Linked DNA regions of Homo sapiens: all the other regions are linked to region 5. Evidence: fine-mapped expression QTL. A gene starts in region 5. Each other region holds a variant in brackets. All regions are shown on one strand. Distances are from middle to middle. Region 1 overlaps PITPNM2 (phosphatidylinositol transfer protein membrane associated 2). Region 2 overlaps PITPNM2 (phosphatidylinositol transfer protein membrane associated 2). Region 3 overlaps PITPNM2 (phosphatidylinositol transfer protein membrane associated 2). Region 4 overlaps CLIP1 (CAP-Gly domain containing linker protein 1). Region 5 holds the start of PITPNM2 (phosphatidylinositol transfer protein membrane associated 2).

Evidence for each region. PIP is the estimated chance that this variant, and not a neighbour inherited with it, causes the effect.
Region 1: its variant is the best candidate, but not a certain one, in a credible set for the expression of PITPNM2 in whole blood (TOPMed, PIP 0.77).
Region 2: its variant is the best candidate, but not a certain one, in a credible set for the expression of PITPNM2 in monocytes (TOPMed, PIP 0.68).
Region 3: its variant is the best candidate, but not a certain one, in a credible set for the expression of PITPNM2 in whole blood (INTERVAL, PIP 0.65).
Region 4: its variant is the best candidate, but not a certain one, in a credible set for the expression of PITPNM2 in fibroblasts (GTEx, PIP 0.77).

The regions. Positions count from the first base shown.
Region 1 is chr12:123,069,454-123,075,704 of GRCh38, reverse strand. The region is part of intron 2 of PITPNM2 (phosphatidylinositol transfer protein membrane associated 2); the gene reads left to right. Among named protein-coding and RNA genes, the nearest start is that of PITPNM2-AS1, 8.8 kb to the left of the region's middle. RefSeq lists an enhancer at 4,514-5,386. The variant A/C (reference allele first, on the strand shown) is at 3,677.
Region 2 is chr12:123,104,345-123,110,595 of GRCh38, reverse strand. PITPNM2 (phosphatidylinositol transfer protein membrane associated 2) reads left to right here. Exons shown (of 26, transcript NM_020845.3): 2 at 108-211. Among named protein-coding and RNA genes, the nearest start is that of PITPNM2-AS1, 26 kb to the right of the region's middle. RefSeq lists enhancers at 2,673-3,413, 3,252-3,461, 4,897-5,639, 5,640-6,251. The variant G/A (reference allele first, on the strand shown) is at 3,362.
Region 3 is chr12:123,116,918-123,123,168 of GRCh38, reverse strand. All of the region lies in intron 1 of PITPNM2 (phosphatidylinositol transfer protein membrane associated 2), which reads left to right. Among named protein-coding and RNA genes, the nearest start is that of PITPNM2, 31 kb to the left of the region's middle. RefSeq lists enhancers at 3,116-3,929, 3,930-4,743. The variant G/A (reference allele first, on the strand shown) is at 3,663.
Region 4 is chr12:122,300,486-122,305,485 of GRCh38, reverse strand. All of the region lies in intron 20 of CLIP1 (CAP-Gly domain containing linker protein 1), which reads left to right. Among named protein-coding and RNA genes, the nearest start is that of VPS33A, 36 kb to the right of the region's middle. The variant C/T (reference allele first, on the strand shown) is at 1,953.
Region 5 is chr12:123,148,104-123,154,354 of GRCh38, reverse strand. It overlaps PITPNM2 (phosphatidylinositol transfer protein membrane associated 2), which reads left to right and starts at 3,265. Exons shown (of 26, transcript NM_020845.3): 1 at 3,265-3,602. MPHOSPH9 (M-phase phosphoprotein 9) reads left to right here. Exons shown (of 24, transcript NM_022782.4): 24 at 1-140. RefSeq lists silencers at 2,882-3,081, 3,102-3,361, 3,382-3,521, 3,622-3,711.

The DNA of each region.
Region 1 (6,251 bases), 79 kb after region 5:
GAGCCGCAGGGGGCGTGAGAGCAGCTTGGAGAGGTGGGAGCCTGGGCCGCCGATGGCTCCAGCCTGTGAAAGTGTGGAAAGCTCGTTCCAGGAAAATTGGAATAATCACCTCATTGGCTGGCTTTCAGGCGGTGAGTGGTTCTTTCTTTAATTTGACAGGAGCGCTGGGATTCAGGGAAGGGCGTGGTGGGAAGCCCTGTGGTTCAGACAGACCCCACGAAGCCAGTGAAGCTCCCAGGAGAAAGTCTGATTTATTTTTCCCTGGCCTGGCTTGCAGCATGGTGGAATCCACCACCCAGGCTGTGCTGGGCAGGACAGGCCGCTCTGATGCGGGTCAGAGATTCTGGGACTCAGAACATCTGCCTTGGCCCCCGCCCAGCCCGTGCCTAGCTTTGAAAAAGTCTGTTGGTGGTGTTGCATGATGACTTAAACTGCAGGAAGAGAGAAGCTCATGAACATTAAACTCTCCCCCAGTCTCTCTTGTGAGTTTCCTGAACACACACGTACTTATACATGCACATACACGCCTTTGCCCACAAGTGCACATATGCTTGCAGATACACACACACAGCCTCCCCACATGCACACTCACACAAATACATGTGCACATGCCATGCAGGCATGCACATGCAACTCACAAGCTCACACCCACATGCACGCACACACAAATATGTTTTCCCTGCCTGCTAGCAGGGGTGTACCTACCATTTGGCATTCTTCTCATGCTAACATGATCCCATGTAAACGGTTCCCAGGATTGTTAAGATCAGACAGCTGTCCTTTTTATGCATTGCTTTACAGCTCAGTGTCTCACCTGAGTGAGACAACTGTCCCTGTCCACTTCTGGAAAGAGCTGCCTCTGTTCCCTCTTTTCCTCCCTGGTGCTCTGTTGCATGGTCTGGTGTATTACAGGGATTGGCATGTTTGTGTCTGCAGGGGAGCCTCTGGGTGCTGGCTTTCTGTCCAGGGCTTCTGAGGGCCGCCAGCCCAAAGGGAAGGGATTCATCAGAGACTGATAAGCTTAGGGTGTACTGAGCTGTGAGGCCATATGTGTGTGTTTGTGTGTGTGTGTGGGTGGGTGGGTGTATGTGTAGGCATGTGTGTGTCTATGTGAGGTGTGTGATGTGTTTGCATATGCGTGTGTGGTGTGCTCATGTGGGGGGTGTATATGTGAGTGTGTGTTGTGTGCATATGGACATGTGTGTATTTATATGTGCATGTGTGGTATGTTGTGTGTGTGAGGTGTGTGTGCATGTGTGTGGCATGTATATGTGCCTGTGTGTGCCTATGGGGTATGTGAGAGTGTGTGCAGTGAATGTGAGTGTGGCATTTGTATTTGGGCATCTTTAACTTTGCATTCTGCTTCTCCCATTTTCTGCTTCAATTCCCAGAGCAGGGCTCAGCAAACTCCTTAACCTATGTCTGCACTGGGATCTTAAATCCACTTCACAGACACTTTCCCAAGTCTCATCTGATTTAACAGTTTGCAGCCACCCTAGAAGTACTTGGCGTTGCTCCCATTTTACAGATAAGTAGACCGAGTCTCGGAGGGTTGAGTAGCCTGCCTGTGAAGGCAGAACCAGAACTTGGATCCTTGGCTCTTTCACTCCTTCGCTCCCTCCCTCCCTCTGCCTCACTCATTAGTTATACATGCAACCTGCTCTGCACCGGGCATGGCTGCTGGGCTCTTGGCCTGAAGACTATATTCAGCCCTTGTCCTTCAGCGGGTGCTCAGTATGGGAGGAGGCCAAGGAGGTTGGGTGAGGAGAGCTGGGGGGTGCTCACTCTCCCTGCACTCCACGGCCACCCACCTTAGTTGTCTGAGAAGAGAAAAGGAAGGAATTAGAGAGAGGAAGGAGCAGGCAGCCTGGGGATGAGCTGGAGGAGAGCCCCCTGCATCTGCCCTACCACTCACTTGCCCCAGGGCTTCCACCCAGAGTACGAGGCCACTCTACACTGTGGAAAATCCGGGTCACTCTGATCCTGATCCACTGTTATTCTGCTATAGGAGCAGAGTGGCTCCCTTTCTTTTAAAAATTGCTACATCATGTATCATCAGAAAGACAGTCTGCATCGTGGGGTCTATGTGTTTTAGGCTGAGGATTTCAGCATTGGTGGCTCAGGGTAGTAGGAGCAGCACTGCACATGAGGAGATATGTGCCTCAGTTTCTTCATCTGTAACATAGAGATAACACTGTCTACTTCATGTGTCTCACCACAGAGAACAGGTGTGATGTGCTAGGAGATGAACCACCTGTGTAGGCGGTGGCGAATGGTAGGCTGTTGTTAGAGACAAGGCATTCCCATAACTTACTCTTCAATGGGTCAGGAGTGTTTATGCCCAGAGATGCACACAGAGAGCAGGAGGGACACAGATGCAAGGCAGATGGAACAAAAGGGAAGCAATTGCTGCTTTTGGGTAGTGTAGAGGGGAGTTCTTATGTTAGTTTTGCAATTTTTCCGTAGCTTAGAGACTATATGAAAATGAAATATGGAAGAAAAAAGGCTCATCCATTTAAGAGCTCTTCCTAAGAGGTTGAAAGTATACCGATGTAACAAATAGCAGAGGGTTTGTACCTTAACGACCCATGAGAAGCCAAGTGAATAAAACGGAAGCTCCATCCTCATGGAAGCTGGAGACAGCTGGCCATCCCTGAAGGGGATAGGGAGCTCTGGGGAGGGGGGCAGGCGATGGAATCACACCAGCCAAACTCTCAAGAGGCAGGGCTCTCCCTAAACACCAGGCCTCGGAAGTCAGGCTCCTTCCCTGATCCCTGTTGGGGCTCCGGATTCTGGCTTGGATGACTTCCCCAGGGCCCTTGCCTGGTGGCCACAGCCTCTTCTTCCAGAGCTCCAGGTGAGGGAAAGTTGTATCTTATGATGGTTTCCTGACTGGGTGCTGGTTTTATTTGGTCCAACGTTCAGTTGCAGGTTTACCCAGTAGGTCAGCTTTGTGGCCCTCTCTGCTGCCTTCGGCATCCTGAAAGCCCCTTTCAGATGAATGTTTAACCTCAAAACCTTGAGCAGCTGTTGACAGGGAGCACTAGGCCTGGAGTCTGAGAGTCTGGGGTCCCAGCTCTGCCCCAGTGGATCTCTCTGAGACCTGACTGTCTCCCTGACAAAGCCAAGTTTGGTGGGAATGAATGAATGAGGGACTTGAACATGCTCTGTCACTCTGCAAATGGTAGGTGTGTCTTGGGAGAAGACAGGAGAGGGACAATTGCCAGCCTTAACTTGCTGTCTACTTTGTGCCTCACTTTCCCCACCTTGTTGCCATAGTGAGAGGAATTTTCCTCATCAAGTCCCCATCACCTTTCTCTAAGCAAGACTATGCTCAGGGGCTGGAGGGCAGGGGAGAATGCAAGTTAGAAGACCTTGTCCCTGTCCCCTGTCTACCATCAGCCTGATTATAAGATCTTGGAGAATTCCTTTGACCTCTCGGAGCCTCAGTTTCCTGGTGTGCACAGCAGAGTTAGCGATGGATGCCCTCAGGAGAATGGGAAGGACAAATGGATGGTGTGTGCCCAGCACTTTGTTTCATGCCAGCGTCCTCACTTTTCCTGTCACCCTGTGCCCTTGTAAAGCACTTCACAGCTTTCTAGGCGTGGGCACACCATTATCACAGCCTGTGGCTGTGAACAGGCTTTGTCAAGCCTGTGCAGACAGAGAATGGGGA[A/C]TGGGTAAATTTAAAACACTCCTTCCGCCTGACTTCATTTGCCTGCTGGGCCTGTGCTAATTGCATGGCTGAAGTCCCCTTTCCAGGACTCTAGATTCCTGAGATGGAAAGGATCGGGACTGGGCTGCTCTAGGACCTTCCTAAGCTGGTAGAAGAGCAAAACTTGGTAGTCATATAGGCTCGGGTTTTGAGTCCTGGCTGTGTGACCCACAGAAGCTGCTTAATCCCATTGCACCTCAGTTTCCTATTGTGTGGAATGGGAGTGATGGTCCCCCCATGGGCGTTGTGTGAGAATTCAAGATTCTGTGCTTCTTGCCTGCCTCGTCGCAGGAGCGTGTGAAGCGGATGATCGTCTTGTGGGGCTCTCCTCCAGTGTCAGATTGCTCTGTACCAGAGGCTGTCCTAGGATCAGGGCCAGGCCAACCGCTGCTTTTCATGCTCCCAAATGTTTGGAGAGCCAGTGCGGTGTCTTAGCCAGCAGAGCTTTCTGTCAGGAGGTGTGATCATCGAGCCGTTTGTACCCTGCCAGCCACCTGAACCCAGAGCCACTCCCTGGACTGAGCTTGCCCTCAGGGGAAGGTGGGCAGCAGAGTTATCCAGCCTGCGGGTCTCTCTCTGGCTGTCCTCCACCCTAGGAAGCACAACACGTGGTCAGCAGTGTGGCTTATGGGGAGCACAGGGAAAAGATGAGCAGCTCCATATTTCATGGCTGAAACTTGGATATGGCTGCAGTGCCAAGGAGGGGCCTCCCCTGGACCCAGAAAGAGCAGGGGCTGGAAGTTATGCTTGAGACACCAGCTGGCAGCTTCAACTTAGAGAAGAGCCGGCATGCCTGTCCCCCTCTGCTGCCTGCAGCCCTCTGCCCACCCTACTCAAGAGTTCAGCCTGTTGCTCCCTCCCAAGCAACAGTGGACACTCGAGGATCCCAGGTCGGACCTGCTAGATGGGGACACTGAGCCAGGCAGACCCAGGGCAGCTTTCCTGAGTTCCTTGGAATCACACTGAGCTGGGCCAGCTGGATAGGCTCCTGGAGGCAGAACGGAGTTCAACTCCCTCTCTCTGCTGGCCTCCTTCCCTGCATCCCCCTGTTTGCAGCTAGGAAGGGCTGACCTGGTGACTCGGTGACATCCCTTCCATGTGGCCCCAACATGAGTCACACGTCACGGCATTCTCTGAGTTGGGCAGATGCGCGAAGGGGCATGTTGATGTGGGGCCCTTAGGGCTGCCCCCACAACTAGCCTGGTCTGAAGAACCGGTTGGTCCTGTGGGGTTATTTAGAAGGCATGGGGGGCAGGCCTAAGCTCCCCAGCTCCTCCTTGGAAGAGGCCTGGCCTGTGTAAGCTGTTACTGCCTGGCTTGAGGAAGTGGCACACCGAGGAGCATCCTGTCTCATAGGGAGCCCATCCCATGGGCAGCTCTGCTCCTCAGGGCAGCCAGTGGAGCTGGGAGGGGGGACATCGCCTGCTTCCCAGACTCAGCGTGTGTCATGTTCCTCTGGGCTGCCCGGCCTGGGTGTTCTAGGAGGCCTCTGTCCAGAGGAGCAGACCTTCCCTGATGCCCACACCAACATGAATGCCTGCCATGAGGCCCTGAGGGTGCTGATGACAGCAGCTGTGACAGCGGTGCCATTGCCCACACGGTCCTGGGGCCCTTGGATACGGTCCAGCTCAAACCCCTTCACTATAGCTGGGACACTAAGGCCCACACAGGCCAGGGACCTGCTTCAGCTCCCAGGCCCTTGTTACCACCACTTGATGTGATCTTCTGTTTGCAGTCTGATAGCTTTCAGGGCCCAGTCCCTGCTCCCCACAGTGGACATGGGCTTAGGGCATGATTTAAGCCCCAAGAGCAGTGAAGAGAGCTGGGCTAGGGGCCAGGGCATGGCGACCTCTTGCCCCAGGCTCAAGGCTAGTAGAACCTCTGGACTCGTCTGTCCCTGGGCTGTATCTTATCAGCAGACTCTCCTGGCTGGGTCTTGCCAACCTGGGGACTCTTAGCTCCTTGCCAGTCACTCAGTGAGCCCCTGCTTGTCATATGAGCACCGGGTGCAGAGCCCCACTGCTGGGCAGCTTCCTGAGTGCATTGCATCTGGCTTTTCACTGTCACCTTGGGAAACGGTCAGGGCAGATGACCAGAATCTGTTCCAGGAAGGGGCCTGGAAGTTGGGTCACCTGCCCAAGGTCAGACAACTGTTCTGGGACAGAGTTTGGAATTAAAATCTTTTATCTAACAAATATTTGCTGGGTACCTACCTTTATTAAGCAACTGCTGTGGCCGAGCCCTGGGGACACAACTTTGAACAAGGCTCGGGCCCTGAGCTCCAAGGCAAACATGTGGCTACAGTGCAGTCTGATAAATGCCAAAAGGAAAGTGGGCGCAAGGTGCCCGGGGTGCTGACTCGGCCCACGGGGCTTGGGAAGGCTTCCAGGGGGCCTGGAAGGCGAGGAAGCTTCACCTGGGGGAAGGGCTCTTTGAGCACAGAGGACTCTGGCCATCTGATTCCAGGCCTATAGGGACCCCAGCAAGCCCAGGAGAGGTGTGGACTCTGGCCTTTTCTTTGCTGCGTGGCCTGCAG
Region 2 (6,251 bases), 44 kb after region 5:
TTCAATCCTCTTGGTCCATCGGCATTGTGGGTCTCCCAGTTGGATTGGTGTGGAGTGATCAGAGTCCAGGTGTCTCACCTCCTCTCCCATTGTGCTTCTCCCTGCAGGATGCTGGCACGTGTGTCCTGGTCCTCAACAACCTTCTGTGAGCCTAGGGACCCATTTCTCCTCCTTTGACAGGGACATCAGTGGAGCCTTCTCAGACCCACAGGTAAGGCCGTCCACCTGTGCAGTAGCACCCTACTTCCCAGAGCTGAGGCCCTGCAGGCCACCCTGGCCTTTGGAGTTTGAGGGTACGGAGACTTTATTGCTGTTTCCCTTTTCCCCTAAAAACCGGACTATTGTTGGGCGCAGTGGCTCACACCTGTAATCCCAGCACTTTGGGAGGCTAAGGCAGGAGGATCACTGGAGGCCAGGATTTCAAGACAGCCTCGGCAACATAGTGAGACTGCATATCTCTGAAAAAAAAAATTAACTGGGTGAGGTGCCACATGCCTATAGTCCCAGCTACTGGGGAGGCTGATGTAGGACGATCACTTGAGCCCAGGAGTTCGAGGCTGCAGTAAGCCATGGTCGCACTACTTCACTCCAGCCTGAGTAACACAGTGAGACCCCGTCTCTTAAAAAGACACTATAAACCTGACTTTATCTGATTAATGTGGGGTAGATTGTATTTATTGATTACGCTTTTGCAAATATTGACTTCTTTTCACTAAATACGAAAGACCGATGTTCTGCCTCTGGTAGCTTTCGATTCCAAATAGGATAAAAACTGCTTGGGTCAGCCTTTGAGGCCCCAACGGCTGCTATTCTCCTGTTTATAGAGCACCCCAGAGTGGCTCTTTTCTGTTTGCTCTTGAGGCTTAGCCTGGCCTGCTCTACCCTTAGTACATGGAAGAGGACAGGCAGGAGTTATGCTTCTTCTGTGCCTTGGCTGGGAAGCTCAGGCTCTGGCTACTCGCTGGCTTTGGCAGAGAGCAGAGGCTGGGCTGCTGCCTTGCTCAGCTGCCCGCAAGTCATGGTCAGTGGCCCAGAAACAAGCATGAGTGTGGTTTTTAATGCACCATCCCTCTGGATGTACAGTGAGAAGCCAAGGCTGAGTGGAGGGTGGGCCTGAGCCTCTGTCTTGAGTCTCAGGGAGTGCCAGGTCTAGAGATTGAATGGCCCAGGGAGTAGCAGTCTCTCCCCTCCCACCCCCAGCTGGCAGCAGGAGCCCCTGGCCTCCCAAGCTTCTTTCCATTTCGTATTTCTTTGTCTCAGGCACAATCCCTGGCCTTGGCCCCATTTTCCATGCCAAGGCCTTTGTTGGGTGGAACAGGAGGTAAAGTGATTTTTCCTTCTTTTTTTCCTAAATGTTGATGAACCCTTCTCCTGTTCACTCATTGGCTAGTTTCAGCTTTGGAGGCACGGAGGATGGATGTTCCATCAAGGGAAGCTAGCAAAGCTGAGGTGAGGATGCTGGTGGGGGTAGGTTTAATGTACCCAGCCCCTGCTGCATGGGGCTAAGTCCCACAGTAACCATGAGCAGTGCCTGTTAGGGTCCCTTTTTACACAGGAAGCCGAGGCTCAGAGATGGCAGATATCAGCTCCAGGTTGCACAGCTAGTCAGTGGTGGGATTGGGATTGGACCCCGAGTCTAGACCTGGAAGCACATGGCATGGTTTTTCAAATTTGGCCTGTGACTCACAGGGCCCTTGGTTCAGCCCAGGCTCAACTGTTACTTGCTGTCTGATCTCGGGTAAGTCCCTTCCCTTCTCCGGGTGCCCTCATCCTTGCTGGGAAGATAGGGCACGTTGTGATGGGGCCTCTTAAGTTGCCTCTGTGGCTCCGTAGTTCCAGGCTGGCACCGTGGACTGTTATCTTCTCTAATTGCTCATTCTTTTCAGTTGCTGTGAAAAGGCCTCCAAGTGCTAAGAAGAGAGAGTGCTATGTTGTATTTTTTGTTTTTCTGTTTTGTTTTAATTCACTTTCCAAGGTGTCCCAGCTACTGGGAGTGGATGTAGGGGAGGGCACATAGTAACACTCAGCCCTGACTTGCAGCTTCTCCAGGGGTCACTCGGGTTCTGCGGGGTTGGGGCCTCGTGGTTGTCCTGTTGCCAAAGGTCTTGGCTGCCAAGTCGAGGCAGGGCCCGGTGAGAGCTCTTCTGCCCTGCATGGCCTGAGCACTGACATTGCTCTGAGGGACGCTGCTTCAACACAGCCTTGGTCTCCTGTCTCCTTTCTTACAGGAAGGAGGTTCTATTCCTTCTTAACAACTGCATTCCAGAGTGCAGTGGCTTTGCAGAGACCATGGCCTTGCAGCTCACCTCATCCGAAGGTCTTCACTTAGACCTAAAATGTCTTCAGGAATTGTTCTGCTCCACTCATTTGTCCATAAAGTATTTATTGTTACTTAGTTTGCACCAGGGACCATTCCAGTTGCCAGAGACGCCACTGTGAACAAAACAGACAGGCATCCCTGCCCGCGTCTAGTTTATATGCTGGTACATTCTCTGCGCTTTGCTTATGCAGTTCCAGCATCCTGAAATTCCCTCTTCCCACCTCTACCTGTCAGGTTCCTGTTTCACCTTCCAAGCCCATTTCAAACAGCTCCTTTCCTCTAAATTTCTTTGCAAGGCCTGGGTCCGCATTAGCCTCTCCTTCCTCCCTCTGTGCTGTCACGGCATACTGCTTGGACCTCAGAATTCTTGGCATCATTTTCCCTGAAATATTTCAGTAAGTGTCTGTGTCTGCTGTTGACCTGGGAACCTTGTAATGTGGGAGACTTGCCTTTGGGTGCCATCCTTTCCCCCCAGATCCTGGACTAGAGAGCTGGTACCACCTGCTTTTCCCAAAACCCTCCCCTAGAAAATGGCAGGCCCCATGTGAGGATGATTAGGGTTGCCCCCTCCATGCCTCTGCACCCTGCTTGGGAGTTTGTGGCATAGTGACCACCGGGCCCTGGTAGCGAGAGTCATGGGGTGGAGGGAGGCCACACTCCCTGGGGTTCGCTAAGAACGAGATCTTTCCTTCTCCTCTCTCCTCCACAAGGGACTGAGGAAGGAAAGGGCTCAAGGACCAGGGTTTATTTTTAGAAAAGCTCCTTGCTGTGGAGGAATCCAGAGCCCTTCCTTCCAGAAGGTGGGGGTGGCAGGTGGTGGGTGGGGTAGCTGGGGTTGTGTCTCCTACTGCCTGGCTGTCTTTCACAGTAGGGGTCTGCCTTAAAGAGGAGGGTCCCAGCCAAGGAGAATATTTGCCCTTAGCCCTCACAGTTGAAGATGTTTGCCATTCGGCATTGGTGAGCAGAGCTTCTGGCATTGCCATGAGCTTCAGTGTCCCTTGGGCAAGAGCTCAGCGGGGAGGGTCCTGGGCCCAGGCAGTG[G/A]CTTCCTTCCGGACTCCCCGTGGCTCAGGCAGGGAGGGGCACTTCCTGCCATTGTCTCTGTGACAGGCCTCAAAAGGTCACTGTCTCCTGAGGAGAAAGAGAGCTCATGACATGGGCAGGGCCTCAGACCACAGCAGCAATGACACAGACTTTCCAGGGCACGTCCCCACCTCCCCATGCTGTACCCCCATCCCCACCTCCAGCCCCTTGGATGAAGTCCCATCCCAGGTGAAGAAGGGACTTATCTCCATCCGTAGCAGCAGCAGAGCCCTACCTGCAGCGAGGGCCTTGCTTCCTAGTCCCTCCTCTCAGGCAGCCCTAGTCCCACATGGGAATGCAGGCCTGTCCGTCCCTGTGAGGTTTAGGTCTGTGATAAGTCTCGCATGTTAGAAGGCTGCCCAGAGAGCCCAGAGCATGGGGAGGTTATGGAGAGGAAGTAGAGGGCTGAGTGCCCTCATGCCCTGGAGCAAAGATGCTGCCCTGAAGTCCACAGAGAGCTCCTCCTCAGCTCCTTTGCTGTCCCCACAGAGCTTGGTAGAGATCTGGGCACAATCTGATGACCCATGTCATGCCCTGGCCAGTTCTGTCACCTGTGCCCCTCCTGACTGCTCCCATCTACATTTTGTTTATTGATATGGTTCTTTGACACACACCTGACGCTGCTCAGTACGCAGGGCTTTAGCCAGAAATTGCTGGCTCTTCTCAGTCTCCTCTTCTTCCTGTTCCCCGGAGCTCTGGGGACTGACCCCTGCATTTGCCTTGTTTGCTCTGATGCAGCATGTCTTCCTGAGAATGTACTTTCTTTTCTTCCTGTTTTTTTTTTTAAAGGAATTATTTACTTATTTTAGAGATGGAGTCTTGCTCTGCCACCCAGGCTGGAGTGCAGTGGTGTGATCATGGCTCACTGCAGCCTTGAATTCCTGGGCTTAAGCAGTCCTCCCACCTCAGCCTCCTGAGTAGCTGGGACTACAGGTGCACACCACCACACCTGGCCCAGAATGTATTTTACTTTCAACAAGGTGGCAGAAGCCTGCATTCCTCTGGCTTGTGTCGAATTGTGCTTCAGAAGGATGTCTTCTGGCTGCCGTGTTGAGAGCAGGCTATCTGGGGTGAAGAGAAGAAGCAGGGGGCCTGTGGCAAGACGATTGTTTCTGGGCGATGCTTTTGGTCACTTGTTGAGGTTTGCGCAGGCATACCATGCTTGCAGGGGGATGGGCATGGGTCTGTTTCACTTGTGCTCTTCAGGACAGGCAGGGCCAGGAAGGAAGCTGGCCTGGCCTACCTGAGGGCATGTGAGGCCGGGTGCCCTGCTGTCTTGGTCAGTGGTGGTCTGGGGCTGGGGGTTTCTCTACATCTCTGCCTGCAGGTTCTCAGCATGGGAAACTCTTTCTCACCACCTTTCTTTTCCTTCTTCCTCTCGTTTCTGCCTTCCCTTGGCTCTAGTACAGAGCCCCTGTCTTCGGTTCATTTCCAGTACTTCTCCATGGTGGGTATCCAGTGCACTCACATTGATGACCTCATCCCACCTGCAGGGAGGCAGCTGGAGGCATGACGGCTCAGCACTCCAGGTGCCTGGAGGCATTCCCGTATGCGCTGAGCCCTCATGCCTCCCGGTAACCAGGTGTCGTCAGCAGGAGCTTTCTGGATCTGTGTCCCCTGTGTCACTTCCTTTCTTTGTTTCTTCACACACTTCCTGAGATGTGAACCCTGCCTGGGACAATCGCTTTTGTTCCTGGAGACAGTGTACAGAGCTTGGAATTCTCTGAGGGGTTCCTGAGATGGCGCCATTCAAGCCAGGGGGTTGAATAGCTTGACTCTTCATTTCAGCAGCACGATTGACCCCTCAGTGGATCAGCAGCGATTCATTCCACACGTATTTAGTGAGTACCTACTATTCTAGGAGCTGGGCATAAAGACGTGATAAAATGTTAAAAACTTCTGGCCCTCCTGGGGCTTGTATTCTAGTGGGGGTAGACACTCGATAGAAAATAGTCAGTAAAACCTGTAAGCACATCAGATGGTGATCAGAGTTGCAGAAGCAGGGGAAAGGAAGGCCTCCCAAGTTGGGGACATTTAGGCGAAGACCTGAAGGAGGTGAGGAGTGAGCCAGGATGGTAGCTCAGGGAGAAAGGCCCTGAGGCAGGAGCTTGTCCAGGATGTTCAGGAAACTGGAGTGAGTGAATGAGGGGAAGAGAAGCAGGGGAGGAGGTCAGAGAATATTGAGGGCCCCGTTAGATCAGGGCTTTGCAGGCTGTATCAGGACTTTGGCCCTGACTCTGAGTGACCTGAAGCTTCGGAAATGTTTGAGCAGTAGAGGGTCAGGATCCGAATTGTGCTTTAAAAGGATGGTTTCTGGCTATGGTGATGAGAGCAGGCTGGATGGGAGGAAGGGAGGAAGCTGGGTGATTGTGGGGAAACAATTGCAATAGGGAGTTTCATGTGTGTCCGTGTGAAGAGACCACCAAACAGGCTTTGTGTGAGCAATAAAGCTTTTAATCACCTGGGTGCAGGCGGGCTGAATCAGAAAAGAGAGTCAGCGAAGGGAGATAGGGGTGGGGCTGTTTTATAAGATTTGGGTAGGTAAAGGAAAATTACAGTCAAAGGGGGTTTGTTCTCTGGCGGGCAGGAGTGGGGGTCGCAAGGTGCTCAGTGGGGGAGCTTTTTGAGCCAGGATGAGCCAGGAAAAGGACTTTCACAAGGTAATGTCATCACTTAAGGCAAGGACCGGCCATTTTCACTTCTTTTGTGGTGGAATGTCATCAGTTAAGGCAAGGACCGGCCATTTATACTTCTTTTGTGGTGGAATGTCATCAGTTAAGGCGGGGCAGGGCATATTCACTTCTTTTGTGATTCTTCAGTTACTTCAGGCCGTCTGGGCGTATAGGTGCAA
Region 3 (6,251 bases), 31 kb after region 5:
ACCATCATGTGTTAAACCAGGTCCCTGTTGATGGGGTTTTAGATTGTAAGAGCAGAAGATGGGAAGCAAACAGTGCTGTAGCAGGCATCTCAATAAGTAGGTTTTCATGCAAATATACTCTCATGTCTGTAGAATAAATTTCCAGAAGTAGAATTGCTGGGTCAAGGAGTGTTTTTCTTTTATTTTTGTTAGCAATTGCTAAATTGCTCTCCATAAAGGTAGTACCAATTTACACTCCCACTTACAATGTGTGAGTGCGAGGCAGTGGTTTTCAACCTCAAAACCCCAGGCAAGGAAGAGCTTTTAAGTAAAATAAAAATCTGGAGAAAACTCCTTCTGTGTGAGAGCCTTTTCTACCGCAAAGGGCAGGCTGTAGGGTAGTTCCTGGCATAGCCAGTTAAGACTGTTCATTCCCATTAGCTGCCAGCTTGCACACGACTGAGGGGCTCTTGGGTTTTTGGATTCCTGTAGTCAGGTTGTGGTCTGGAAGATATGTTCCTGGTAAAGGGTGGGGGCAGCAGCTACCTTGCCCCTTCTCTGTCAGCTTGTTTACCACCGAGTATCTGAGAAACACCAGAAGCTAACCTTCAGGGAGGTTATGTTTTTGGGGGAGCTCAGATGTGACCAGGAGGCCTATCAACAGGCTTGCGACTTGGATTTCCCAGATCTGTAAGTTGACGTCATTTCTTTCTTTCTTCTTTTTTTTGGAGACGGAGCCTTGTTCTGTCACCCAGGTTGGAGTGCAATGACACGATCTTGGCTCACTGCAACCTCCGCCTCCCAGGTTCAAGCGATTCTCCTGCCTCAGCCTCCTGAGTAGCTGGGACTACAGGCGTGTGTCACCACGCCCGGCTAATTTTTGTATTTTAGTAGGGACGGGGTTTCACCATGTTGGCCAGGCTGGTCTCGAACTCCCGACCTCAGACGATCTGCCTGCCTTAGCCTCCTAAAGTGCTGGGATTACAGGCATGAGCCACCGCACCAGGCCAATTGACATCATTTCTAAAGAGATTCCCCAGGGAGCTGGGGGCAGGAGGAATGGAGAGTTAGTATTTGATAGGTACAGAGTTCAGTTTGGGAAGATGAAGAAGTTCTGGAGGTAGATGGCAGTGATGATTGTGCACTTAAAAATGGTTGACGTGTTAGATGGGCATGGCGGTGTGTGCCTGTAGTCCCAACTATAATACTTGTGAGGCTGAGGTGGGAGGATCACTTGAGCCTGGGAGGCAGACGTTGCAGTGAGCCAAGATCATGCCACTGTACTCCAGCCTGGGTGACAGAGCGAAACCCTGTTTCAAAAACAAACAAACAAAAGGTTGACATGGGCTGGGCATGGTAGTCCAAGCCTGTAATCTCAGGGACTCAAGAGGCAGAGGCGGGAGGATTGCTTGAGGCCAGGAGTTAGAGACCACCCTGGACAACATAGACCTTTCCTCTACTAAAAAAAAATTATGTTAAAGTCAGATGTAGTGGTGCGTGCCTGTAGTCCCACCTACTCAGGAGGCTGAGGCAGGAGGTTTGTTTGAGCCAGGAATTCAAGGTTGCAATGAGCTGTAATCATGCCCCTGCACTCCAGCCTGGATGACAGAGTGAGACCCTGTCTCAAAAAACAAATAAAATAAAATAAAAATAAAAAAGTTATTATGGTAATTGTTATGTTATGCGTATTTAACCACAAACACAAAAAAAGGTATAATTCACTGTAGCTATCATCTCATGAACAAAAGGAACACTAAGAAGTAGGAAAGATCTAAGAATAAAGAAACTAAGTGGAGCTTTTTGATTTTTGTTTGTTTGTTTTGACACACGGTCTTGTTCTGTTGCCCAGGCTGGAGGGCATGATCATGTCCTACTGCAGCCTCAAACTCCTGAGTTCAAGAGATCCTTCTATCTCGGCCTCGTAAAGTGTTGGGATCGCAGGTGTGTGCCACCATACCCCACCAAACTGGAGCTCTTTGAACAGCTTGGCCCATTAGCCATGTTCTCATTTCTCCTTGAACCGGTGAGAGCTTGGCCAGGCCTGGCGCTGACCTGCTCACTGGGGTTTGGGAGTCAGCAGAGAGGCCTCTGAGGGCTGGAGCCAGAGTCAGCTCCCCAGAGAAGGAGCCTGGGCTGGGCCTGCAGCAGCTGTGTGTTCTGAGAAGATTCTATTCTCTAACTTGGGAGACCTGGGGCTGTCTCATTTCTCTGTGTTTAAACAAGAAGTGTGTCTCTGGCCTGCTGCCGGATGTTTTGGAGGCTGGTTCAAGTGAAGCACCCAGTGATCTGGGTGTGGTCTTCGTTATGCTTTTCCATTTTCCCCAGGGGCTCAGATAACTTTTGCAAAAAGAGCAGGTGAGCAGAGCAGATGTTTGTTTAGAATGACATGGTGGCTCAGAGTAGGTGCTCAGAGAGGTTGTCCCTGCTGGGGCTGTGGTGTCTGACCAGCAGGGAGGAGCTTTGCAGAGGTATTGTGTGGCCTCTGCACAGCCATCCTGCCCTAAGGTGCTAGGTGTTGTACCAGCAAAGGTCATCATCCCAGACTGTAATTACTCTCAGGAAACATGTGCCACTACATCTCAGTGCCTTTAGAGGATGTGGATGTGAGCTCACTCTCACTGGCCAGGGTGTGACTGACAGTGAATTAGCTTTATGCCACATCTGGCTGAGGGCTCTGACTCTTCCATGATCCACTCTCCATATGAGAGGTCTGTGGTCATCACTCTACTTGCAGAGAGAAAGGCACTAGTCCTATAGAAGACCAAGGAACTCCTATGGCACTCTTGACAAGGAGGCTGCTGCCCTGGGCCAGTGCCTCCCAGCCAACCTGTGACTATTAGACCAGAATGCTGCTTAGACACCTGTTGTCTTACCCCTCCTTTCACAGCCAAAACACAGATTCCAGGAGGTGAGGGGCCGTCGAAGCTCACAGCCAGTTGGAGTCAAAACTGGCTCTTGAACCCAGTCCGTGAACTCAGGTCCTGAATGCTCTGGTTGGGGCATTTTAAATCTTAGAGGGTGTTAGTTATAAGGTGACCTTAAATCTGCGGGTTCATATTTGACAAAACCAAAGCCAGGCCTTTGCTGCAGGTGTGCCCTCAGAAAGCCCTTGTCGGCTATGCAGCAAAACCCCGGCAGGCCATACAGGCACCTGTGATGAGTTTCCCTTTGACTCACTGGTTGTCAAGTAGGTAACACGACTTCACCATACTCACAGGGCAGTATGGTTGCTGAGCTGACACAGCCTCCTCACGTGGGTGGCAAGCGTATGCTTCCCATTAAGAAAATTGCTACTTTTGAACGGGCTCCCAACAGAACTTTTTCTTGCTTACTAAAATTAAGAAAATAATAATAAAACAAGCCACTCAACACCCCAAACTCAAAAAAAAAAAAAGAAAGAAAAGAAAAAGAAGAAATATTTAGCATTGACCCAGAAAAAAAGCCTCTGTATTCAGCCTGATATTAGTACTCATGGAGCCACATGGATGGAACGAAGAAATTTTCATTTAGGTGTGATTAAGATCACATCCTCAGCCAGGCGCGGTGGCTCACGCCTGTAATCCCAGCACTTTGGGAGGCCGAGGCGGGCGGATCACGAGGTCAGGAGATCAAGACCATCCTGGCCAACACGGTGAAACCCTGTCTCTACTAAAAAATACAAAAAATTAGCCAGGCGTGGTGGC[G/A]GGTGCCTGTAGTCCCAGCTATTTGGGAGGCTGAGGCAGGAGAATGTTGTGAAGCTGGGAGGCGGAGCTTGCAGTGAGCCAAGATGGTTCCACTGCACTCCAGCCTGGGTGACAGAGCAAGACTCTGTCTCAAAAAAAAAAAAAAAAAAAATCACCATCCTCTATGCTTCTAGATAGAGCACAGCCTTTAGTTGTGCTACCTAATCCTTGTCCCTACCTCCCGAGCATGACAAAGCTTAGGCAGAAGCTGCTTCAAACACAAATGAACTGTGCTGAATTTTCCTCTGAGCATTCTCAGCAGTCCCAGGAGATCATTGGAGAAATCCCCCAGGTGGCCACAGAATCAGAGCTGTCTTGCTGCGTTAAGTCTTGTTGGATCACTTGAGTCCTGAAGAGGCCCTTGGTAAAGGGAATAGTTAGGCTATTGTCATCAACGCTGAGCCCAGATACATCTGGGAGTGGGAGCTGGAGATCTCTGCCCCTGACCTGCAGGTGACTAAAGCTGACAGTGGACACAGGCCACACGGACACAGCCGAGTGACACTGTTTCACGTCCCTGCAGCCTGGCCTCCATCAGCACTAAGGCACAGTATTTGCGGAAGGGCCATGTGTTCGACAATACTTACCATGTCCAGTAGCCAGATGGTCTAAACAACCCATCAGTGGTATGGTATGTAAATATTTTCCATCATTATCATGGTGCTGCCGTGTTGACATTAACGAGGATGAAGAATTACTCTGAGGAGCTCTCCGTTAAGAGCCAGTCAGGCCGCAGGCGGGGCTGCAAAGCTGTCCGTACACCCTGGAGGCTGACAGCTTTCCAGGCTAGCTTGGTTTCCTCTTGCTTCCTCCTCCCAGGCACAAATTCCCTCACACACTGGCCCCGTGGACATTCCCCTCAGAACTCTTCCCAAGCACAATGTCTGTTTCTCATCATGAACTAATGTTTTCCACTATTGGGAAGAGCTTTGTGACCCAGCATATTTCCCTCTTTGCTTTGCCTACCAGGAAGCACACAGCTAAGATTTTACTCATTTGCTTTTAGATTGTTCTCAATTTAGAGCCTTGATAGAGATTTTCTCCCTCCTGTTTGGTTGCTTTCTTTCTTTGCTCATCTCATGTTTGGTGGGAAAATGTGGTGAGCCTATGTTGTAAGGTTTTTGGAAGCAGGCAGTATGGATAGAGCTTGAGCAGGTTCCCATCATGATCGCAGAGTACAGAACTGGTCTGTATCCAATCTCCCTGAACTGTCACCTAGACTGGTAGTTCTAAGAAGGCTAAGATTAGACCTCAGCCTAATTCTCCTGTGTATCTCCTACATATCTGACAATTAGTATCAATTTGGTGAATGTATTAGTTAAGTAATGCTAACTGCTAGACAATTCTCTAGTCTCAGTGGCTTATCACAATAAAGGCTTATCCCCACTCTTGTCTTAGTTGAATTGCATGCTCTGTGAGTGGCCTCCATGTGGTGAATTGGGGACCCAGGATCCTTTCACACTGTGGCTCTCCCATCCCTTGGGGCTCCCCTGGAGTTCTCCAGTGAATCTGTGCAGTCAGCTGGCTGGTAAGCAGAGAAAGAGGGAGCATAGGAGATTGCATGGGGCATTCTGGGGGCCAGGCTTTGAAGTGGTGGACCTCCCCTACTCATATAACTAGTCCCGTAGCCTCACCTAGAGTCCAGGGGGCTAAACATATGATTTAGGGAGAGGAAATTGGACCATGCCAGAGTCTGTCATAGTGAGATATTGAACAATGAATGAACAAATCCATGAAGGGCACAGAGAGCAGAGCAGGGCTCCAGGGGCACACGTCTGAGGAGCCCAGTGAGCACTTCTGTCTGCCTTGCAAACCTAGATGCAAGTCATTGGACTTGATGCAGGGCTTTGGATTACAGGTCAGTATTCCCTTCTGTCCAAATCATAGGATTGTAGAATGTTGGAGCTGAACTGAGAACCCTTTCAGAGGTCATGAAGCCCAGCCTCCTCACTCTACAGATGGGGAAACAGAGGCCCAGTGAGCCGAGCTGACTTACCCAGAGTCAGCAGCCAGAACTCTGGTCTCAATCCCATGCCAATGATCACTTCACTGCACTCAGGGAATCCCATCCATATCTCTGTCCACAGTGTGCAAACCCCTGCTCTGCACAGATAGAGAGTCGTGTAATTAAGTGACAGCTTGAGTTGATCATCTGATGGCCAGCTTACTCCGTAGGATCACTGGAGAAATTCCCCAGCCTCACGACCGCTGTTTGAAACTCAGCACCGGCTTCATTTCAGCATTCACTCCATTGGGATATTGGGAGTGGAAGACTACTCTCTTCCTAAGACTCATTTAAGCACTAACGTCTCTCAGCAACTCTCATATGTGAGGATACAAAAGGTCTTCATGAGTCTTATGATGGAAGTAGAACTTCCTGCAAACCCGCTAGAGAGCTTGGCCACCATCAGTTACCTATTGCTGCTTAACAGAGTACGTCCAAACATAGTGATGCAAAATGCCATTTTATTTATTTGCTCACAGTGTGGCAATTTGGGCAGGGCCCAGTGGTAAGGTTAGCTCATCCCTGTGCCACTGGTGTCAGCTGGA
Region 4 (5,000 bases), 850 kb after region 5:
GGTCATATAGTTTAAGATTAATGGAAACTATACAGAGCATTCGTTTCTTTTTTAAGAGACAGAGTCTCACTTTGTAGCCTGGGCTGGAGAGCAGTGGCACTATCATAGCTCACTGCAGCCTCAACCTCCTGGGCTCAAGGGATCCTTCAGCCTCAGGCTCCCCAGTAGCTGGGACTATAGGTATAGTCTACCCCTATTTTCTTTTCATAGGGAATTCTAAAAATAATGTTGATTCTTCTATAGAAATAGTCACCTTAGGTAGTCACTTTTGATATGTCTGATTTATCATTTCCAAACCTCACATGTGTTCCACCTTGTAAAGATAGCAAATACAGTGAGCTATCACTATGGGAACAGAGCTGATTCTCCCCCTGGCTATTTGTAGAATGAGGTTACAGTTTGCTTATGGAAACCGGACAGGGATTAAATGACTCAATAACTGTATTTCATGAACAGTTTTTCCTGACAGAGGTTATAGCAGATGTATTATACAAAAAAATTGGGGTTAGCATCTAAATTGATCATGAATAGTCACCTGCCATTTAAATGAGCCTGAATTCCCAGACATGAATGCTTAGAAAGGGAAAGCTATTTTTAGCTTATTGTGTATTAGTTTGGAAAAATGGTGGTTATCAGCCATCATAATTTTAATCTGGGCTCAGGGGACTTCTGGGCAACTAGGGCTGATTGAAGCTGGATCACAGACTCTGTCTCCCTTCAGTACCCAATGCTATGAACACAGTTTTTCTGTATTAAAAAATGTGTCCAGCAGAAGCCAACAAAGCCAGTCAACTTCATGCTATAAACTTTTAAATTGGCACCCAAGGCTGGACGTGGAGGCTCACGCCTGTAATCCCAGCCCTTTAGGAGGCTGAGGCAGACAGATCACCTGAGGTCAGGAGTTCGAGACTAGCTGAGAAACATGGTGAAACCCCATCTCTAATAACAAATACAAAAATTAGCCGGGCATGGTGGTGCATGCCTGTAATTCTGGCTACTCGGGAGACTGAGGCAGGAGAATCACTTGAACCCGGGAGGCAGAGGTTGCAGTTAGTCGAGATCGTACCACTGGACTCCAGCCTGGGCGACAGAGCAAGACTCCGTCTCAAAAAATAAAAAGTAAATTGGCAACCAAGAAAGGAAACAAAATTGTGGTTTGACTCTGACACTTTGTCCCCAGTGGTAAGTGGAAAGGACGGTGAACAGCAAAATCCTGAGAATTTGTACTTGAATTCTCTCCATCCCTGTGCCCAGTCTAGTTTGGAAAAAATTAGACTGAAGAAGTGAGTAGACAGCCTGGGAAAAGTAAAGGAAAAATTTCTGAGGCTCAATGCCCCTTTGCACCACCGCAGGATTTTACCAACGGTGGGAAAAACTGCCAGTGGTCATTTTCTGTAGCTAGTCCAGCCAACAAACTGCAGCTGACAGGCACAGGGCACTGTGGGTATTTTTCTCAAGTGATAATAAGTCCGCAGTAGGCAGTCCGGGCGGGTACCCCCTCAGGAACGTCTGCACGGAGCTGGCCCTTCCTTCCTGCTTGCTGCTCTGCTAGGCGTGTAGTTCTTGTCCGTCTGATCCCCGGTTGGCTATTGTACCTCAAGCATCGCAGAGCTTTCTGGATGGAATCAGGGGGAGGACAAGGCAGGGAAATGCAAAGGGCTTCTCACATGGCTCTGTCTTCTAATTTGGGGAAGAAAGTTCACATTTCTATGATCGTATCACATAACCACCTCCAATCACAGGAGAGGCTGTGTTCCAGTCTCTAGGAAGGGAAGGTAGCAGAAGCAGTAGGAGCACTGTGGAAAGAGCTGACTGGGGATGCGTGCCCCAAGGCTGAGGATGTTCTCCTGTGGGAATGAGATTACCTGTGTTCAGGTAGAGTGAGTGATGTGCATAGAACACTGAAGAAAAATCTCAGGAAAGAGATCACCAACGGAGTCTATGTGTAGCCT[C/T]AACTATCCCAACCTTGACTCTATCCAGAAACCTCTGGCTACAGAAATGTGTCAATTACAGTGCTTAACTTTTAGCTGTAACGTGGGGTTAAAGATAAAGGCCTCAGATAAGGTAGGAAGGGTGTTGGGGGAAACTCACGGTATATGTGAGCCAAGGGAAGGTCTAGGTAGAGCCATCGAGAATAAGATGAAGTGTACACATTCTGCACCCTAAGAGGGAAAAGAGAAAGAACGGAACATCAAGAGCCAGAGAGAGACAGGAATTCAGGCCAAGAGAAGCTGTTACCCAGGGAAAATAGTGCTTTGTGTTATGTAAAACTCAAGTTATTTGAATAAAACAAAACAACTGTTCAAAGAGAAGATGATAAAATGACACAAGTTTAACAGGGAGATTGAAGAATTAAGGAAACAAATTGAAGACCAAACCACACCAGATCAAGACTACTAAATAAATCATAAACAGGAAGCAGCCTTATAAGCATTTCTTAAAATATAAAGGAAAGGGCCAGATGCAGTGGCTCATGCCTGTAATCCCAGCAATTTGGGAGGCCAAGCCAGGAGACTGTTTGAGCTTAGGAGTTCAAGACCAGCCTGGGCAACATAGCAAGACCCTGTCTCAAAAATGTATCTATATTTAGGCTGGGCACGGTGGCTCAAGCCTGTAATTCTAGGACTGTGTGAGGCCGAGGTGGGCAGATCACTTGAGGTCAGGAGTTTGAAACCAGCCTGGCTAACATGGCGAAACCCTGTCTCTACTAAAAATACAAAAATTAGCCAGGCGTGGTGGTGCCTGCCTGTAATCCCAGTTACTTGGATACTGACATGGGAGAATAGCTTGAACCCAGGAGGTGGAGGTTGCAGTGAGCCGAGACCACACCACTGCATACCAGCCTGGGGGACAGAGCAAGATTCTGTCTCAAATATATGTGTGTGTGCGTGTGTGTAAGTATTAGGAGATACGATAAGGAAATTTCCCCAAGTAAAGGAAGAACTGAATCCGCAAAAAGAAAAGAGAGTGGGTTGTATGGAAACCCAGTAGGGGGACCCATTGGGAAAAATTGGTCCAAAATAATAGACACCCCAAAAAAAATACCCTGGTGATTACTGAAATTCAACAATACAGAAATAATTCTATGGTGGGCATGGTGGTTCATGCCTGTAATCCCAGCACTGGGAGGCCGAGGCAGGCAAATCACCTGAGGTCAGGAGTTCAAGACCAGCCTCACCAACATGGAGAAACTCCATCTCTACTAAAAAAGAAAAAAAATAGCCAGGCATGGTGGCGCATGCCTGTAATCCCTGCTACTTGGGAGGCTGAGGCAGGAGAATCGCCTGAACCCAGGAGGCAGAGGTTGCGGTGAGCTGAGATAGCGCCATTACACTTCAGCCTGGGCAACAAGAGTGAAACTGTCTCAAAATAATAATAATAATAAAAAATAATAATTCTAAGTGCCCAGGCGGAAAAATCAAATTTCTTATAAAAACTTAAAAAAACCAACCCAACTGCAGATACATTCAATGCAAAAAAAACTCTGCTGCACCACATCCACTGTTCTGAGGGACAGGAAATATGGCCAAGAGCATCGTCTCCAGACAATGACTATTCAGGTGAGACAGCAGGCACATGTTTCCAAACATGAAAGGACTTAGAAGCTGTGGTGTTTGTGAGTCCTTCTGAAAAGGAGCCACTTGATGATAAATTTGAGCCAAGCAAGACATGAATCAAAATAAAGGCCTTAGCAAAAGAGAAGCGGACACAAGGACTGGTCATGAGCGTTAAATCCAAGTAAACAGAGAGCTAAGCACACAGCTGTGGGGTTTATGGGCACATACTAATGTTGTGGGGTTCTTTGTTATTTTGAGACAGAGTCTGATTCTGTCGCCCAGGCTGGAGTGCAGTGCTGCAGTCTCGGCTCACTGCAACCTCCGCCTCCCGGGTTCAAGTGATTCTCCTGCCTCAGCCTCCTGAGTACCTGGAAATATAGGCATGCGCTACCACGCCCAGCTAATTTTTGTATTTTTAGTAGAGATGGGGTTTCGCCATATTGGCCAGGCTTGTCTCAAAATCCTGACCTCCTGAAGGTCAGGACTCGCCTCGGCCTCCCAAAGTACTGGGATTATAGGCATGAGCCGCCGCGCCCGACCCAGACTAAGTTTTTAATATTTCATTTGGAAATTGTTTCAAACTTTGTGAAAAGTTGTAAGAATAGAACAAATAATGCTCATATATTCTACTATTTTTATATAAACAGTGCAGTCATGAAATTCAGGGAGTTTAACCTCGATACAACAGTATTACCTAACGTACAGACCCTATTCCTGTTCAGGCAGTTGTCCCAGTAACGTCCTTTACAGCATTGTTTTTTTAATTCAGGATTCAGTCCAAGATCATGCATTCTTTTCACTGAGTTGTCGTGTCTCTTTAGTCATCTTTAATCTGGAACGATTCCTCTGTTTTTGTCTTTCATGACATTGACATTTTTTATGAGAACAGGGCCAGTTAGTTAAGCTGCATAAACTCTCTTATTTTGAGTTTGTCTGATGCTTCTTCCTGATGATATTCAGGTTATGCATTTTTAGTAGGAAGACTATATAAGTGATACTGTGTCCTGCCAGGAGGCATGTGATGTTCCTTTGTCCCATTATTGGTGATGTTAATTTTGATCATTTGGTGAATGCAAGTGTAAAACATTTGCAAGGTAAAAAGAAAAAGGAAAAAAAGTAGAAAAAAATATAGAGAGAATGTGACTAACAAAATTTGAGGGGTAGGACTGAAAGAAAGTGGAAGTGTACAAACTTCTTCATCTTTTATATCACAGAGATGTTCAATACGGGCGGCTACTCAGGAGGCTGAGGCAGGAAAATCACTTGAACCCAGGAGGCGGAGGTTGCAGTGAGCTGAGATCGCGCCACTGCACTCCAGCCTGGGTGACAGAGCGAGACCGTCTCAAAACAAAAAAAGAATTAATTTATACCTAAGAAAATGAAATAAACCTCTTACATTTTAAGAACATATTTTACTTAAATTTTACAAAACAAATGTATGAA
Region 5 (6,251 bases):
TGAAAAAACACTCCACCTAAAAGCAGGAAAGATGGCAATTCTAAATAGCAGCTATTATCCCCGGGTATAAACTATTTTTGTTGTTGGCTTGGGGCTTTGCTGCAGGTATTAATAGTTTAAAAAGAAAAAAAAAAAAAAAACCCTAAGCAAATCTGCCACCTCTGGGAAGTGCCTTTTAAAATGCAAATAGAAAGTGAACTCTCCCCTGATGCCTGGATCTGCCCCCTTCCTTTCCCTTGCTAAGCCTCTGTTTGCAGGAGCTACTCCTGAGGTATGGAAATGGTCTTTGCAACTGAAGGACTTTTCCAACTGAAGCAACAGATGTAGCTAAAGTGGCCGTGCTAGGGTTGTGCAGAGCTGGGCTCAGGGGACAAGAAAGGAGAGACTTGGAGCCAGAGAGACCTGGGTCACATCCTGGCACAGGCCTGCCTTTCTCAGCTATAAGATGAAATAAGAAAACTCCTTTCATTAAGGGAGATTTTGTAAAGTGCCTGGTGCTTAGTAAGTGCTCAAGAAATATTATATTTCAGATTCATTGAGTTAAGTAGGTTTTTGAGGTAGCATCCTTTTTTTTTTTTTTTTTTTTTTTTGAGATGGAGTCTCTAGTTCTGTTGCCCAGGCTGGAGTGCAGTGGTGTGATACTGGCTCACTGCAACCTGTCTCCTGGGTTCAAGCTATTCTCCTGCCTCAGCCTCCCGTGTAGGTGGGATTACAGGTGCATACCACGCCTGGTTAATTTTTGTATTTTCGGTAGAGACGGGGTTCTCACCATGTTGGCCATCCTGGTCTTGAACTTCTGACCCCAAATGATCTGCCTGCCTTGGCCTCCCATAGTGTTGGGATTACAGGCGTGAGCCACTGCGCCCAGCCTTGAGGTAGCATACTTTCTGAAATAAAAAAGTAGATTATGTCCGAAGCAGTTGACCTAAAAACTGCCTTGGACTGACATTTGTTAGGTGGTCTAAGATGTTCTCTTCACGCTTTGCAAAAAAATGAGCTTTTTTGGAGTTTAAATTAAGCATCCCTCTGGTGTGTTTGGTTTTTTAGCCACCAAAAATTTAACAAATTTGATAACCTGTCACGTGTAAGTTCAGAAAGCACTTTGGTCTTAATTGGTGACTTGGGGGTTATTTGGTATAAATATAGGTTGTTTTTCTAAAAATTATTGCCAGTATCCTCCAAATAATTGCCCCTTCAAATGTTTCATCTAAAGGTGACAGCTTGTGGGCAGAACCATGCACAGGAAGTGCCTGCCAGTGGGTGTTAGGAGATGTAGGTGGAGTCTGTGATAGCCAACCAAAAGCTATCCCCTTCTCGCCCAGAAAAGCCACGTGCTTTGCTGGACGCTACTTGAAATCTGAACTCTGCACCTACATATGTAGTAAAATTAGACACTTTTGTCACTTTAATTTTTAGATTATCTCAAGTTTTCACTAGATTTCAATGTGCCACTTGTGCTATGAGTCTTTAAGAAGCTTTAAAAAATAAATGCACACCTGTAGCCTTTTACCATTCAGACAGGTAGATTATATTTACCTGTCATGAGGGACCATGTATGGTTGACAGTTGCAGGTTTGATTAAATCCACTATATTGCACAAATTTTGCTGGAAATAATTTCCTGCCCTGCCAAGAGCTCTATGGTAGTTTGATAATAAACTACTACCCCAGTATTCTTAGGAACTGTGTTACTAAGTCTTTTCTGCCTGATTTGTACTTTATTTCCATAGACCCCTCAGATATGTGAGGAATCAAGCCATAAATGTGCATTTGCTGGACATTATGTACCATGTCATCTCTATGACTACAGATTTCAAGGATAATTTTTACATCTAACAATTTCACTGTAACAGTGACCGATAATGTGAGAAATGTGCTTTTTACAGTGCTGCTGGTGGGTAGACAAGTGCTTGCTGCAGTTGTTTCTGAATCTAGCCAGATGCTGGAGTCGTGAAGCTGTAAGCTCCGCGGGAGCAGGGACCATCTCTCTTTCTTGCACTACAGGCACTCAATAAATACTTGTGGCTGTGAACTGGCGTGTGGCCTTTGTGTGTTTATTTCTGCTAGCTGGCTGCAGGAGCGGGTTGTTGGTGATTTTAAGTCCCAGGCATAGAGAAGTCCTTGAGTTATGGGTTAAGGGGCGTCCATCCAGGAGCACAGTTCCCGTTGGGACTCTGTGGGCTCCGCAGATCTTTCTGGATGGATCCTAGGGCACCTCTTGGTGGAGGGAAGGAGCTGAAGCGTTCTAGGTGATGGTGGTACGCCTTGGTCCTCCTCTGCGTGGTCATGGTCAGGGGCACCTGGAGGCGAGTCGGGAACGATGGCCTTCCTGGCCCGTTCAGTTGGGTTCTGCCGTGACCCCAGGAGGTGAGCAGCTGTCAGGGGCTCGGCCTCCCCGGCTTCATCTGGAGTCATCTAGGCCGCCTTAATTTTAGCTTGTCCTCTCTCCTCCAGGGGAGCACCGCCGTCTCCTCAGCCTTATAAGGTGACAAGTAGGGATGGGTCACACATCACTAAGTTTTAGGTGTGCTCTCTTTAGTTCCATGACTTCAGATTTTGCCAAACAAGTCCACCCTGGCTCAACCTAACAAACACCTCATGTTTTTAAGGAATGTCACCAGGCGCTCCCCCACCGGGGGCTCTTCCCATTGGAGAGCCCTGTCGTGCCAGATCATCCGGATTAAACTGTTCGTGATCCTCTTCCAGCTACTCCCTGAGGTGGGGACCGGGACGGCTGCGCTCCCGGCTCTGCCGTTCCCTGGGCCGCGGCCCGGGCGTCCTGAGGGGAGAGCGCGGACCCACCGTGTGGCGAGCACCGCGCCCGGGGCTGGGCTTCGGTGAGCTGCCCGCTGCGCTCTGCCCTCCCTGGTTTACCATTTCGCTCCTAAGAAACTTCATTTTTTAAAATGAGGCTGTTTTAAGAGTCACAGTGGCCGCAAGTCGGCCGGTTCCCGCCCCCGAGTGCGCTCGGCTGCTGCGGACGGTGGGCGAGGAGCCCGGGGCGGGGATCCGCGCCGCCGCCCCCGAGTCCAGTCCCGGGCCCTGAGGACACGGGCGAGCCGGGGAGGAGCGGGGTCGCCGCGGCAGGTCTGAGGAACCAGGCGGGCTGCCCGAGTCGGAGAGGTTTCTTCCGGCGGAGGCGGCGGGGCCGGGCCGAGACTCCGCAGGGACGCGCCCCCGCCGCCGCCGCCGCCGCTCCCCCGCGCGGCCTGAGGAGGCGCCGCCGCCACTGAGGGAATGCGAGCCCGGCCCGGCGCGCGCGGGCAGCAGCGGCCGCTGGGGTGCGCGGGGCACCGCGGCGCCGCGGCGTAGAGCTGTCCAGCCGGCCCCGGCCGCCCGCCCGGCGCTTCCTTCTCAGCTCGCGGCCGCCTCAGCGAGAGCCGCCCGCCAGCACGTGCGCCGCCGCCGCCCGCCTGCGACGCTCGGGAGCAATGCCCGCCGGGGCTCTGCCGCTCGCCCGGGGCCAGCAGGCGGCGGGGGCGCGCGGGGCGCAGCCGGCCGGGCCGGGGCCGCGGGGCGGGCGCTCCCCGTGAGGCGGCGTGAGGTGGCGGCGGCCCAGCCGGGGCCCCGAAGAGGACAGAGCCCGCGGCCGCGCCGAGCGGGGTGAGTGCGTCCGGGCGGCCGCTCCGCAGGCCCGCGGTGAGTCCCGCAGTGCCGGGCGCTGGCCGGGGACCTGGGGATCTGGGCGGCGGCTCCCAGAGAGGCCCCGGCCCGCCCGCCCGCCGAGCCTCCAGCCCGCCGGGGGCTGGAGGAGGGAGCGGAGACCCGGGCAGGGAGGAGGGTGTGGCGTACGGGAGCCCCGCTCGGGAGACCGCCCGAGCCTGGCCTCAGTGAGTCGCCGGCCCTGGATCCGTGCCCGAAACGCTGATTTCCGAATTTCCGTCGGTCGCGACCGCGTGGGGGACCCCCGCCAGGGACAAGTGTCATAGCGGTCGGGGGGCAGGCGTGGGCAGTGCCGGTGCCAGGGCGAGGAAGGGGCTATCGGGAGGAAGCGGAGGTGAGCCCCCGGCCCGCCTTCTCTGCTTCCCGCCTCCAGCTGAACGTCCCCAGGCCCGGGCCGTGGCCTCTGCTTGTCGGGGGCCCAGGGTTGGGGTGTGGCCCGTCTCCATCCTCAGTGCCCCCTTCGTGTGGTAATGGGGTGCCGGCTCTGTCTTCTTCCCACCCCGAATCCTTTCTTATCCGTGGCAGGGCTGATCGGGGGGCCTTGGGGAGAGGGAAAGTTCAGTGTCCCCCGCCCCAGTGTGCACTGCCTCCCCGCAAGAAATCCCAAACGGCCACTCCAGGTGAACATAGTGCGCGCGGTGCAAATGTCATTTCAAGGCAAGTCCTCCAGGCTTGTCCCCTTTCCACCGACTTGCTCCTGCAGAGACATCCTGCACTCCTCTCCCTCCCACTGAAGTGTGGGCTGGGTGCCTCTCCAAACACCCCGGCCTACCTGCCTCCCCCACCCAGAGTCGGGATTCTTCAAAGGAGACCTCACTGGAACATCTGTCTTTGTCCACAACCAGCTCTCTCCCCGGCCTCCACCTGGGAGTGACCAGAGCTGCTAGGATAGACCCCCCACTTCTGGAGGGAAGGCAGTAAGTGCTCCCCTTCATCTGAATCTCCCCTAACATCCATCCCCCAGACTCCTCTCTGCTCTGAACTCCCACTGCCTGCTATCTGTATCTCCTGTGTAACTCTTATCACCGTCTGCCTTATTTTATAGTTACTTTTCCATCTGCCTTATCTCCCCTGCTGGACGGTGAGCTCCCGGGCTGGAGTTGATTCATCTCTGGTCTCCTGCCCTGGTCAGTACCCTGCGTGGAGTCAGTGTCTCCGTGGAGCAGAAGGCCCCTCCAACGCTTGCCTCTGGGACCATAGCTTGTCTGATTCCTGGACTGTTGCTGTTAAATTACTTTCCTTCCATGAAGGGACTGTATTCTGTGGTTGGAATGGACTTCCAGCCCTCTCCCACTGCAGAGAGAAACACAATGAGTTAGGAAGGGCTGTTTTTCTTGTAAGGAGTGGCTTGCCAAGTGAACAGGACAGTACATCCTCTGCCCTGAAGATGGCCAGGCAAAGACTCCAGATTCTCTGGGTAGTGAGTGTTGAATGGGCCATTCTCTCTCCTGGTCTTCCCCAGCTGCTCAGGCGTGGGAGGCAGCAGGGGAGAGAAGTGGACTGCGGGAGTCGAGAGACTGGGGTTCCAGGCCTGGCTTTTCCCATAACTTGCTACAGGAGCTTAACTAAGTCACTTGGTTTCTCTTGGTTTTGGTTGCACCTTATGGAATCTGAAAGAATTCCTCTGCGTATCTAAGGCCCCCTGGGATCTGGGTCCTGTCTACCTTTTCTGCCTCCTCTCCTACCATTTCATTCATACCCTAAGCTGCAGTCCTCTCAGGCTACCTAGAGGCTTTCAAAGGCATGGTGCTCCCATGCCCTCCCTCTCCCCAGGTGCCTTCAACTCTTCACTGGTTGAGACCCAGTCTTGGCCTTCGCAGGTGGAATTGGTCCCTCTTCTGATTTTCGAACCACCCTAGTCTGATTTGCTTGCCACACAGAATGGCCCTTATCTGTTTACACGTGCCCCCCACTAGACTGTGAGCTCCTGGGCGGTTAGTGCTGTATCACGTTTCTCTGCATCCCCAATGCTTTGCTGCACAGTAAGGTACTTAGGAAAATAGTGAGAGGGTTGGCCTAGATCACCACTGAGAGCCCTTCTTGTCCAGAGTTGATTGCTTATACATTCTCTGTTATGGGGACCCGTTGCCTTCCTCCGTGTCTAGAGGCCTGTTTTAACACCAAGCAGATAGATGCTCTCCTAACCAGCCCATCTAGTTAAAGTCTTTCCAACTTGGTCTTCGAGAAGACCAGTCATAGAGGATGTGCAGTTATCTGTAGAGATTAGCAGAGGAAACGTCTGGTACTTTGAGATCACTGCCTTGCTGTTTTTGGAAAAAATGCCAGGGCCGTGTGCTCTTTAATGTAAGCGTAGTGGTATTGCTCCAGTGTCTTTGGCCATGGGCAGGAGGAGCCACTGCTTATGACCGCAGAGTCAATCCAAAATGAGCCATTGTACGCCAGTTCTCAACTTCGCTTAGATGAGATCAATCCCTTTGCAGATAGTCACCCTGAAAGCTGCTTAACAGGACTCCCTGCCTCCAAACACAGATGCGGCTAAGTGGTCTTTGCACAGCTTCTCTGTAGGTCATTTGGTTGATGTTTATTAAGCTTTTACTGGTACCCTGGAATGTTATCAAATAGAGCCAT